3 linked regions of the Homo sapiens genome follow. The protein of the gene in region 2 purifies or fractionates together with the protein of the main gene of each other region. This does not show direct contact. Each region holds a gene or a part of one and is shown on either strand. Other genes may lie near its edges.

The links.
Region 1: the proteins of ABAT (region 2) and RAD23B fractionate together in Homo sapiens (co-fractionation; one large-scale study listed by BioGRID). This does not show direct contact.
Region 3: the proteins of ABAT (region 2) and QDPR fractionate together in Homo sapiens (co-fractionation; one large-scale study listed by BioGRID). This does not show direct contact.

Annotation. Positions count from the first base shown.
Region 1 is NC_000009.12:107,286,191-107,289,841, reverse strand, and holds part of RAD23B (UV excision repair protein RAD23 homolog B), read right to left. Parts: intron 1-3,651. UniProt on the Homo sapiens protein: Multiubiquitin chain receptor involved in modulation of proteasomal degradation. Binds to polyubiquitin chains.
Region 2 is NC_000016.10:8,775,573-8,779,223, reverse strand, and holds part of ABAT (4-aminobutyrate aminotransferase, mitochondrial isoform 1 precursor), read right to left. Parts: intron 2,881-3,651; coding exon 2,734-2,880; intron 1-2,733. UniProt on the Homo sapiens protein: Catalyzes the conversion of gamma-aminobutyrate and L-beta-aminoisobutyrate to succinate semialdehyde and methylmalonate semialdehyde, respectively. Can also convert delta-aminovalerate and beta-alanine.
Region 3 is NC_000004.12:17,487,978-17,491,628, forward strand, and holds part of QDPR (dihydropteridine reductase), read right to left. Parts: intron 2,769-3,651; coding exon 2,685-2,768; intron 1-2,684. UniProt on the Homo sapiens protein: Catalyzes the conversion of quinonoid dihydrobiopterin into tetrahydrobiopterin.

The sequences.
Region 1 (3,651 bases), on a different chromosome or scaffold from region 2:
GAACAATGGAGGGAGAGTGGTACCACATTGCCAAGCACTGTTAATATTATTTCAAAACCCATATACCAATAAGTTAGTACTTTCATACTAGTATTCTCATTTTACAGCAGAGGACCAAAAGGCACATACTGAGTAACTTGCCTGAGGTGACACAGCAAGTGGTACAGCCAACTGTACCTCTCAAAACATATCCTAATTCCATCTACTTCTCTACATCTCCACTCCTACTGCCCTGGTTCAAGCTGCAATTACTTAAAACTACTGCACAAGCCCCCTAACTGATGTCTCTGCTTTTCACTCTTGCCCACCCCACAGCATCAAAGTAACCTTTAAAAATCCTACAAGAAATATTTCTTGGCTAGGTGTGCTGGCTCATGCCTGTCATCCCAGCACTTTAGGAGGCTGAGGCAGGAGGATCACTTGAGGCTAGAAGTTGGAGACCAGCCTGGATAAAACATCAAGACCCCATCCCTACAAAAAAAAACTAAAATTAGCTGGGCGTGGTGGCATGCCCCCGTAGTCCCAGCTACTGGGGAGGCTTAGGGTGGAGGATCACTTGAGCCCAGGAGTTTGGGGCTGCAGTGAGCTATGATCATGCCACTGTACTCTATCCTGGGTGACAGAGCAAGACCTTGTTGAAAAAGGAAGGGAAGGAAGGAAGGGAAAGGAGTGGGGAAGGAAGGGAGGAAAGGAGGGAAGGAGAGGAAAGGAGAGGGAAGGGGGAAGGGAGGGAGGGAGGGAAGAAGGGAGGAAAGGAGGGAGGAAGGGAGGGAGGAAGGGAAGAAGGGAGGGAGGAAGGGAGAGAGGAAGGGAGGGAAAAAGAGAAAAGAGAGACAGAGACAAAGAAACAAAGATTTCTGTCCTGCTTGTAAATGTTTCCAAGTTTACCCTGAAAACCCCTAGCCTAACTCACTTGCCTAACTCACTCTCTTATCTCTTACCCAACTCACCCTTATCTCTTACCCATCACCTTAGCAATGCAGGCTTTTTTTCAGTACCCAAAACACATTCTTAAAGGTCTTTGCTCTAGCAGTTCCCTATAGAAAACATTCTCTTCATTCTCGAGTGCTCATTTTTACTCAGCTCTCAGCTTAAATGTCACCTTATTCAGAAAGGCCTTCAGTGACTAGTAAATTTAAAAGTAGCCACCCAGATCTCCTGAGCTCAGGAGTTCAAGACCACCCAGGGCAACATGATGAAACCCTGTCTCTACTAAAAATACAAAAAAATTAACCAGGTGTGGTGGGGCACACCTCTAGTCCCAGCTACTTGGGAGGCTGAGGCAGGAGAATCGCTTGAGCCCCAGAGGCGAAGGCTGCAGTGAGCCAAGATGGCGCCACTGCACTCCAGCTTGGGCTACAGAGTAAGACTGCATCTCAAAAACAAAACAAAACAACAACAAAAATGTAGCCACCCAGTGAAGTATTATCAAATACTTTATCCTATTTCAACTTTCTGCATAGCACTTACCATTACCTGGTTTTTAAAATGTATTTTTTGACAGTTTTATCCCACTAGAATGCACATACCATCACAGCAGGGCCTGACATCTAGTAAGTACACAGCAAATATTTATTAAATAAATAAATCAACATGCAAACACACTACGTTGGGGGATCACTGCTTTGCCAGTTCACCAAAAGAATATATTCAGTTCATTCAAAGATCTTTACTAAATGCCTACTGTGTGCACGGCATCAAAACAGCAAAAGTCTGGCAAAAATGTACCAGATTTCTCAGTTTCTTCCTGTATCTTGTTCTGCCAATATGCCAAGAACTCTTAATTTCACCTCTGTGATATAGTATTTTTAATACATTTACTACTCATTACCTTAATCTAGGAAGCTTGTATAATATGAAATTGTATCTAGCATGACTATATTGAAAATACAATAAACCACCACAGGAATACTTCACTAATAAATGATGGCTAGTAAATACTGTATAATACAGAGCAAGTACTAAAGCAATATACACACACAGTTTTTTTGTTTTTTTTTTTTTTTTGAGATGGAGTTTCGCTCTTGTTACCCAGGCTGGAGTGCAATGGTGCGATCTCAGCTCACTGCAACCTCCTCCTCCCAGGTTCAAGCGACTCTCCTGCCTCAGCCTCCTAAGTGGCTGGGATTACAGGCATGCACCACCATGCCCAGCTAATTTTCTATTTTTAGTAGAGACCAGGTTTCACCATGTTGGTCAGGCTGGTCTGGAACTCCTGACCTCAGGTGATCCACCCGCCTCGGCTTCCCAAGGTGCTGGGTAAAGCAGTATTTTATAACAATCACATTATAGAGGTAAACCACGAAATTAGGTAATTCTTCACAGCACACTAATATGCTATTTATAGATATTAAAACTGATGTCTTTGCAATTCTCTTAGCAAAAACATCCAATGTATATGTAGAATTTTAATGTCACTTATATACTAATCCAATCACATTTCAGCTTTTGCATTTAAAGTCTCATCTCAAATTTACTGAGTTTTGTTTTTAGTTGTTCAAGGCAAACAGTGTCAAGAGTTAGACTGCAGGATTAATTTGTATATCACATACTTTTTCTTGTCACCATTTCAGTGATGCAATAAAATACTGCACTGTATTTTTTTTATCTCAAAAGGTTTATTCCTAAATCTACCTTTCTTAATGTTTTTAAGCAACAGTAATATAAAACACTAATTGACTATAAAACTGAGCTTAAAAACTGTATTCCATTTCCCTCTAAATGTCCATCACACCATTAAACTTCAGAATTTTTTTTTTTTTTTTTTGAGACGGAGTCTCGCTTTGTCGCCCAGGCTGGAGTGCAATGGAGTGATCTCAGCTCACTGCAACCTCTGCCTCCTGGGTTCAAGCGATTCTCCTGCCTCAGCCTCCCAAGTAGCTGGGACTACAGGTGCATGCCACCACGTCCGTCTAATTTTTTGTATTTTTTTTAGTAGAGACGGGGTTTCACCGTGTTAACCAGGATGGTCTCGATCTCCTGACCTTGTGATCCGCCCACCTCGGCCTCCCAAAGTGCTGGGATTACAGGCATGAGCCACCACACCCAGCCTAAACTTCAGAATTTTTAAGAATTTCAGAGAAGCAGTGCTCTATCACACATCTCAAAATGCTTTAATATGTAGGCTACTTAAAAGTCTCCCACAATTTTTACAGTAAAAAACAAAAAAAGCACATAATGAAGAAAATCTCCTAGCAATGGTCTCCCTACCCCACACATACCACCTTCTCATTTTGTTTCTATATTGTTTGAATATTTTATAAGAAGGCTTGCATTACAATTGTAGAAACAAAAAGATCTTTGCAAAGATTAACACTAAAGGCAGTGGTCATGTAATGTATCACAGTAATAGTCAAGTAAATGGTACAAAATGCCTAATAAGTCTAAGAAAGTTTTGTTAAAACTAGGGCAAATAAAAACACCTTAAAACAAATTATCTTGCTCTTTCCATTTTGTATATCCCCCTACTCTATAGCCAATGAGCTTTGACTAAGTCAATAAGGCTCCCAGAAGCCCCAGACCACGTTCTACAGGTCCCTGTACTCCTCCAGTCCTGCCAGCAAAGCTCACTAAACATTTACTTGTTCAACAAATGAATCATTCCCATGATTCCACTTATCTCACAGTCCTTTCTTCCATTTTTGCTCATGC
Region 2 (3,651 bases):
CCTCTCACTGTATAACCTTGGGCCACTCAAGTGCCTCTGTTTACCCTGCTATAAACTGAAGGATTTAAATGCTGTTGACCCCACTGGGGCCGTGGTGAGACTTTAGCACGATAAGGTTCACATGTTAAGTCCTAAGCCTGGGGCTGGGCACTTGGTGGATGCTCCACAGATGTTAGCCATCTCCATCGTCAGCTCTTCTAGAAAGGTGGTTCTTCTGGAAGAAGAAATGCCTGTCCTCCCTCAGGGCTTTGAGACTGGGAGCTGTACTGGATTGAATAGTTTCCTCCCACTGCCCCCTAAATTCATGTTTACCTGGAACCTATGACTAGGACCTAATTTGGAAATAAGGTCTTCGCAGAAATAATTAGTTAGGTTAAAATGAAGTCTTCCTGCATTAGAATGGCCCCTAATGCAATGACTGTTTTTTGTTTTTTGTTTTTTTTTTTTGAGATGGAGTCTCACTCTGTTGCCCTGGCTGGAGTGCAGTGGCACTATCTCGGCTCACTGCATCCTCTGCCTCCCAGGTTCAAAGATTCTTGTGCTTCAGCCTCCTAAATACCTGGGATTACAGGCACCTGCCATCACACCTGGCTAACTTTTTTTTGTAGTTTTAGTAGAAACTGGTTTCACAATGTAGGCCAGGCTGGTTTCGAACTCCTGACCTCAAGTGATCCACCTGCCTTGGCCTCCCAAAGTGCTGGGATTACAGGTGTGAGCCACAGCGCCCGGCTCAATGACTGGTATCTTTATAAGAAGAAGACAATCTGGAGACAGACACAGGCACAGTGGGGAGAACACCAAGTGACGCCAGAAGCAGAGTGAAGCCTCCACACGTCAAGGAACATGAAGGATTCCCGGCAGCCACGAGAAGGTGGAGAGGGGCATGGAACAGATTCTCCCCCAGAGCCTCGAGAAGGAGCCAACTCTGCTGAAACCTTGATTTCAGACCCTGGCCTCCAAACTGTGAGAGAATAAATTCTTGTTTTAACCCACACAGTTTGTGGTGATTTTTTACAGCAGACAAGGAAACAAATGCAGGTGCCTAGTCTGGAGGACCTTGATTTCACCTTACTCTCTGCTGTCCATATGAAGGACAGCAAACAAGGGCTTGGAAAACCCCAAATAATTTCAGGGTACTGGGGGCTGAGTTGGGGGAGCAAGTCTTATTTCACGGCAGCTCATTGGTAGAAACTGGAGACATGGTCCTATTCTGGGGGTGACAGAGCCGGGCACCGTGTTAGACACTTATGTGCACAATTTGTTTCTTTTTGTGGAGTATGGGTTCTCACCATGTTGCCCGGGCTGGTCTCAAACTCAGTTGAGCTGAAGGCAATCCTCCTGCTTCTGCCTCCCTAAGTACTGGGGTTACAGGCATGAGCCCCTGTGCCTGGCAGTGGGCACATTCTTGAATCCCCTGCCAGTGAAGAAGGGCTCACTTTGGTCTACACAGATAAGGAAACTGAGGCTCAGAAGTCCTTCCAGCACTTACTCTAGCATGTTCCTTGCACTTGTCAATTGCTGGGGAGCTGGCAGTTTGAACACACCCCTCCCTCTCCCACAGAGTGTGGCCCTGGGATGGTTTAGATTAAAGTCTCTTCCATTTAGACACCCCTTTAGGCCTGCCTGCCACACTCACACACACACATCCCCACACGTCCTTACGGTTAGGAGTGACCACGTGACCAGCTCTTAATCAAGTGTTAGAAGTATTATGTGAGATTTCTGGGAAGGCTGCTAAAGACAAGAAGGGGGCCACTCTGTCCTTCCCTTCTTTTTCCTTCCTATTGCCTGGAATTGAGATGCGATGGCTGGAGCTCCAGGAGCCATTTTGGCCCATGACGAAACCTTGAGGGTAGAGAGTAATCCAGCTCCAGCAGGGGAGGGCAGTGCTGCCGAGTGGTAAGTATGCAACAGGTTGCACAAAGGCGGGAATAATGAACACACTAGAGGGGGTGAGAGAGGGAGTGCTTGGGGGACTCTCAAAGGGGGGATGTCTGAAATTGGTGTCAAAAGATAACCAGGGCCGGGCACGGTGGCCCATGCTCGTGAAATCCCAGCACTTTGGGAGGCTGAGGCAAGCGGATCACCTGAGGTCGGGGGTTCGAGACCAGCCTGGCCAACATGGTGAAACCCTGTCTCTATTCAAAATACAAAAAAATTAGTAGGGCATAACGGCACATGCCCGTAATCCCAGCTACTTGGGAGGCTGAGGCCGGAGAATCTCCTGAACCCAGGAGGCAGCGGTTGCGGTGAGCTGAGATTGCGCCACTGCACTCCAGCCTGGGTACAAAGCAAGACTTGGTCTCAAAAAATAAATAGACAAATAAAATAAAATAAAATAAATAAGAAAGATAACCAGTGCCGGCAGGCGCTGCCCAGCACTTTGGGAGGCTGAGGTGGAAGGATCGTTTGAGGCCAGGAGTTCAAGGCCGGACTGGCTAACAGAGCTTGACCATGTCTCAATATTAAAAAAATAAAAAATAAATTAAAAAAAACAACAACAAAGAAAACCAGGAGTTCAGGAATAGGGGTTGGAATGGGATGGAGGGATAGGGAGGCATCCCCTGCAGAGGACACAGCATGTGCAAAGCCCCCAAGGCTAGGAGCAGCACAGCCCGTTACGAACTGCTGGAACAGCAGGCACAACACCATGCCGAAGAGCTCCAGTGTTGCCCCGGAGGCTGCTGCGGGGAGCCATGGGTGGTGGGGGCGGGGCAGGGGAGGGGGTGTTACCTGGAGGTCCAGCAGTCCTGTGAGCAGGGCCTTCCCGGCATGGGCTGCATTATTTAGCAGGTCCTCCCGCTTGATGATGTTGATGACCTCAGCCAGCAACAGGTTCTTGGACGGGTCCCCCAGCCAGGTGTTGAAGATCCGGTAGGGCTGGAATGAGGAACGGGTGTTGGAAGGCTTCACACACATGCACACCCTGCAGGAGTCACTTACCCCAGGCGCCCCGCCTCCTCTCTTGAAGAGGAGAGAAACTAATCTAGTGGGCATCTACCAGAGGCTGGCAGGGGAACACACCCAATCTCGCTGAATTCTTCTCTACCAGAGGCTAGCAGGAGAACACACCCAATCTTGCTGAATTCTTCCAACAGCAGCCCTGCATGTAGGAACTGCTATGGGGAGGACCAAATCGTCCCATGCACTGGGAAATCCCTCAGTCCCAGGAAACCAAGACAGTCAGTTCCTTAACTCCTATAACCCTCATTTTATACAGGAGGAAGCTGAGGTTCTGGGAGGCTAAGTGATTTGTCTAAGGCAAACGTGACTTACAGATGGAGTTGGGACTGGATTGCTGGCAGTGACCCTCAAAGATCATCCACTTTACCCCTCCATGAATGATTTAGGGTGGCCATGCGGCTAACTGAAACACCCTTCCCAGCCTCCCTTATGGCTAGAAGTGGCCATGTGACTGGGTCTTAGTCAAGTATTGGAAATAGACATATTATGTGAGATTTCTAGAAAGGCTGCTAAAGACAAGAAGGGGGCCACTTTGTCCTTCCCTTCTTTTTCTTTCCTACTGCCTAGAATTGAGATGTGATGGCTGGAGCATCAGAAGCCATTTTGGACCATGAGGCAACCTTGAGGGTAGAAACTACATGTAGGAATGGTGAAAGGACGTTGGCCCCTGATGGCTGTGTGTGTGTG
Region 3 (3,651 bases), on a different chromosome or scaffold from region 2:
TTTGGCCAGGCGTGGTGGCTCACACCTGTAATCTCAGCAATTTGGGAGGCTGAGGCAGGTGGATCACTTGAGCCCAGGAGTTTTTGAGACCAGCCTGGGCAACTGGGTGAAACCCTACCTCTAAAAAAATACAAAAAATAGCTGGGCATGGCACATGCCTGTAGTCCCAGCTACTCAGGAGGCTGTGGTGGGATGATTGCTTGAGCCCCGGAGATCAAGGCTAGGGTAAGCCATGATCGTGACACTGCACTCCAGCCTGGGTGACCCAGTGAGACCCTGTCTCAAAAAAAAAAAAAATTGTTTTTAAAGATTTTAATTAGTTCATTCAAAGAGAGAGACACATGCACAATACTTTGCTATATTACCTTCTCATAAATTTATGAGAGAAACAGATGCAATTCATTTATTTGGCATTTTTTTAATCAAACATTTATAGAGTACCCACAGCTGCACCAAACAATGGAAAAAGAGATAGAAAAAAACAGACTATTACAATAAAATGTTAAATACAGTAACAGGGCCTTTCACAAATCTGAGGAGAGGAGCAACTGACCCCACTTGCAGCAGTCAAAAAGACCCTCTAAGAAGACAGGAATGAAAAAGGGCAAAAGAAATTCACAAGAAACAAGAAGTAGATGATAATTCTTTAACACAAAACATTTACATTTGAGTACATCATCCATTTTGACAATTCACCAGCTGAGACTTCGGACCTTCATTAACTAAAAAGTGCTCAGCATTTCCTTCCTGGGAGACTCCCAGTGCCAATCTGTAACCTTCTGGGCCAGCGCTGATGTGTAAAGGTCCAGTCATTCAGGCCCCTACTCTGGGGTTTGAACAAGCTCATATGAGCACATGGGCTCAAAAAACAAAGCGTTGCTAAAACTCTCTAAAGTACTGTCATGTCATGGCCTCATCTCTGGGGACAGGGTAGGGCTTGGTGAGGGAAGGCTCTGAAAGAGACCAGTGCCGTTTGGTTGTGTAGGGTTTTGTGTGTTGGTTACACATGTTTTTTTGTTGTTTTGTTTTTTTATACTTTAAGATCTAGGCTACATGTGCACAGCGTGCAGGTTTGCTACACAGGTATGCATGTGCCATGTTGGTTTGCTGCGATGCATGTTTTAAATGGTTTTACTTCTTCACCCTCATCTGCAGCGTGGATAGGTGAGTGAGAACGCCATTCTAACCAGGGATGGTAGAGGAAGGATGTGCTCACAGACATCTCAAAGCAAACTTTATGCCAGCTTTTCTGAGAGTTTTCAAATACCACAAATGGGTGGATGTGATCTCTAGAACAAAAGGGGGCCTGTGACAGCCCGTCCTCTGTGGGTCTGTGGCTCAGCACGAGTTCAGACACAAGATCCCAGATGTTCCATCTAGAGTAGGTCTTAGATCAGTATCTCAAGTGTGGTGGGAGTGTCGGCCTTTAAAAAGAAATTCAAACACAAACACAATTCAAAGCTTGATTTCCTCTACAACTTCAATTTTTTTCCTGCAAATCAAGCATGAAGCATGATTCCTGGCATAGACAGAAATAACTGTCAGCACACCAGTTAAGACCATAGGTTCTGCAGCCACACCACTTGTGTCAGATCCCGGCTGTGCTGTGTGACCTTAGGCGAGTGACTTAGCCCCTGCCATCCCTCCAAGTCTCTAAGCCTTAAATAAAAATGACAGCTCCTCCCTCAGAGTTTGCTATGAGCATTAAATAAGAGTTATGAAGTGCTTAGAATGGTGACTGGGACATAAAAAGTGTTCTGTAAGTACACATTTCAAACATAAAACGCAAGTCCCAAATTTCTCCCGATTTAATTTAAATGAGATTGTGACATCAGGCCAGAAGCACACTGCTAACTTCACAAACATCTCTTATAAACAGTCGTCAAAGCAGTTTACACAGAGGCACTACTGGGTCAGGCTGTCACCTTGACCCTCTCGGCACCCCTGCTCCCTGTGGGCAGGGATCCCATCTTTGTCCTCACCGTGACCCCAGAGCCGAGGGCAGCACCTGGCCCATAGTGGGTGCTCGATGAACACATGCTTACTAACTAGAGGGGCTTGAGGAACTGATACCTAAACAAACACAAAAGAGGAATTCAGCTCTCTGTCCCATGAGCGTTCAAATGCCACCCATATTCACAAATGGGCAAAAAGGATTTCGGAAATTAAAGGGCACTTTCTGTGGGTCTGTGGCTTGACACAGATTCAGATATGTGCCCCCAGGCCATCTACGTGGTGTCCCCCTCCCCCATGGAGTCTCCTCATCACAGCAGTAAGGACACAAACTGCAGCTGGGGATCACTGAGCACTTGTTATGGCCAGACACTGTGTTGAGTGCTTGCCGCACACTATCACGTTTAATCCTAACAAGCATGATGGACCTCATGATACAGGTGGGGAAACTGAGGCCTCAGCAGGTCAATAATGTGCTCAGCATGGCCGGTGGTGAGGGAGCGAGCCAGGATTCATGTCGGCACTACCCATTCTGCCACTGTGCTGCCTGTCTCCAAGTCCAGCTACTCTGAGATTCCGTCTGATGTGCAATGCATCCTCAGAGTCCCAGAGACCTCCCAAGACCACCCGGATTGACGATCTCAGGGAACACAGACTTGTCCTCTGGACCACAGCAGGCAGAGAATAGGGGCTGGAAGCTGCTCAGTCATGGACATGTCTGTAATACTCACTCAACTAGGAATTCTAAGGGTGTCCAGGAGCTGAAGTCAGCCTCAGGCATTGATTTCCTGTTCATCGGGGTATCCAGGGTAACCCTGCAATGGACACAGATAAGCACGTCATTCATGTCGCTCCTTTCTAACAACAGGTGCCCAGTCCCCCTTGGCCAGGAAAACGCAAACATACAGCAGGACAACCTAGAGCCTCTGGCACTGAGGGTGCTATTTACATGGAAAGATCAGACAGAAAGATAAGCAGAGAGAGAGCAGGAAGCTGTCCCCGCTAGCAAAGGCCAGATCTGAGCATAATTCAATAAGGTGCGCTGTGGCTCACCACTTAGGCAGATAAGAACAAAACAGAAGGAGCCACATTTTGCCTTTTTAAAAAAGAGTCTTCACTGAATTAAACTGCTTTGTTGCTGTGTCTTTATTCACTCCCTAACATGCAGCACACTCATTTCTAAGGATTTAAGATAGTTATATGCCTTTAAATATGAGAATACTAAAATACTAAAATTTTAAATATGTGGCTATTTTCCACAAAACCTTAAGATTTTTGGCAGAATAATATAGAATTCAGATATGCATGAATCTCCCAAGAACATCAAGGCCTCAGGAATCATTCGAATCATTCAAAACAGCTGTGGGAATCATGTCACAGAATCACAGAACCTCACAACTAAAAGGGAACCAGAAAGTCAATCAGTGCAGTCCCTACAGTCTCAGCATCCCTTTATAGGACCACAGGCAAGAGGCAAGCCTGCTGGTGCTGGAAGCCTTCCAGCGAGAAGGAGTAGCCTCCCTCCAAAGCAGCTGCCTCTGCCTGGGACAGCTGATGGGGGACAGTCCCCCGATGACCAACAGAAACACCTCCAACAGTTTCCCATATTCTCTCTCTCTCACACATACATACCCCATATAATGACTTGAAAGACAGAACTACATATAAAAAAGTAAAATGTGTAGTCTAATTTTAAAG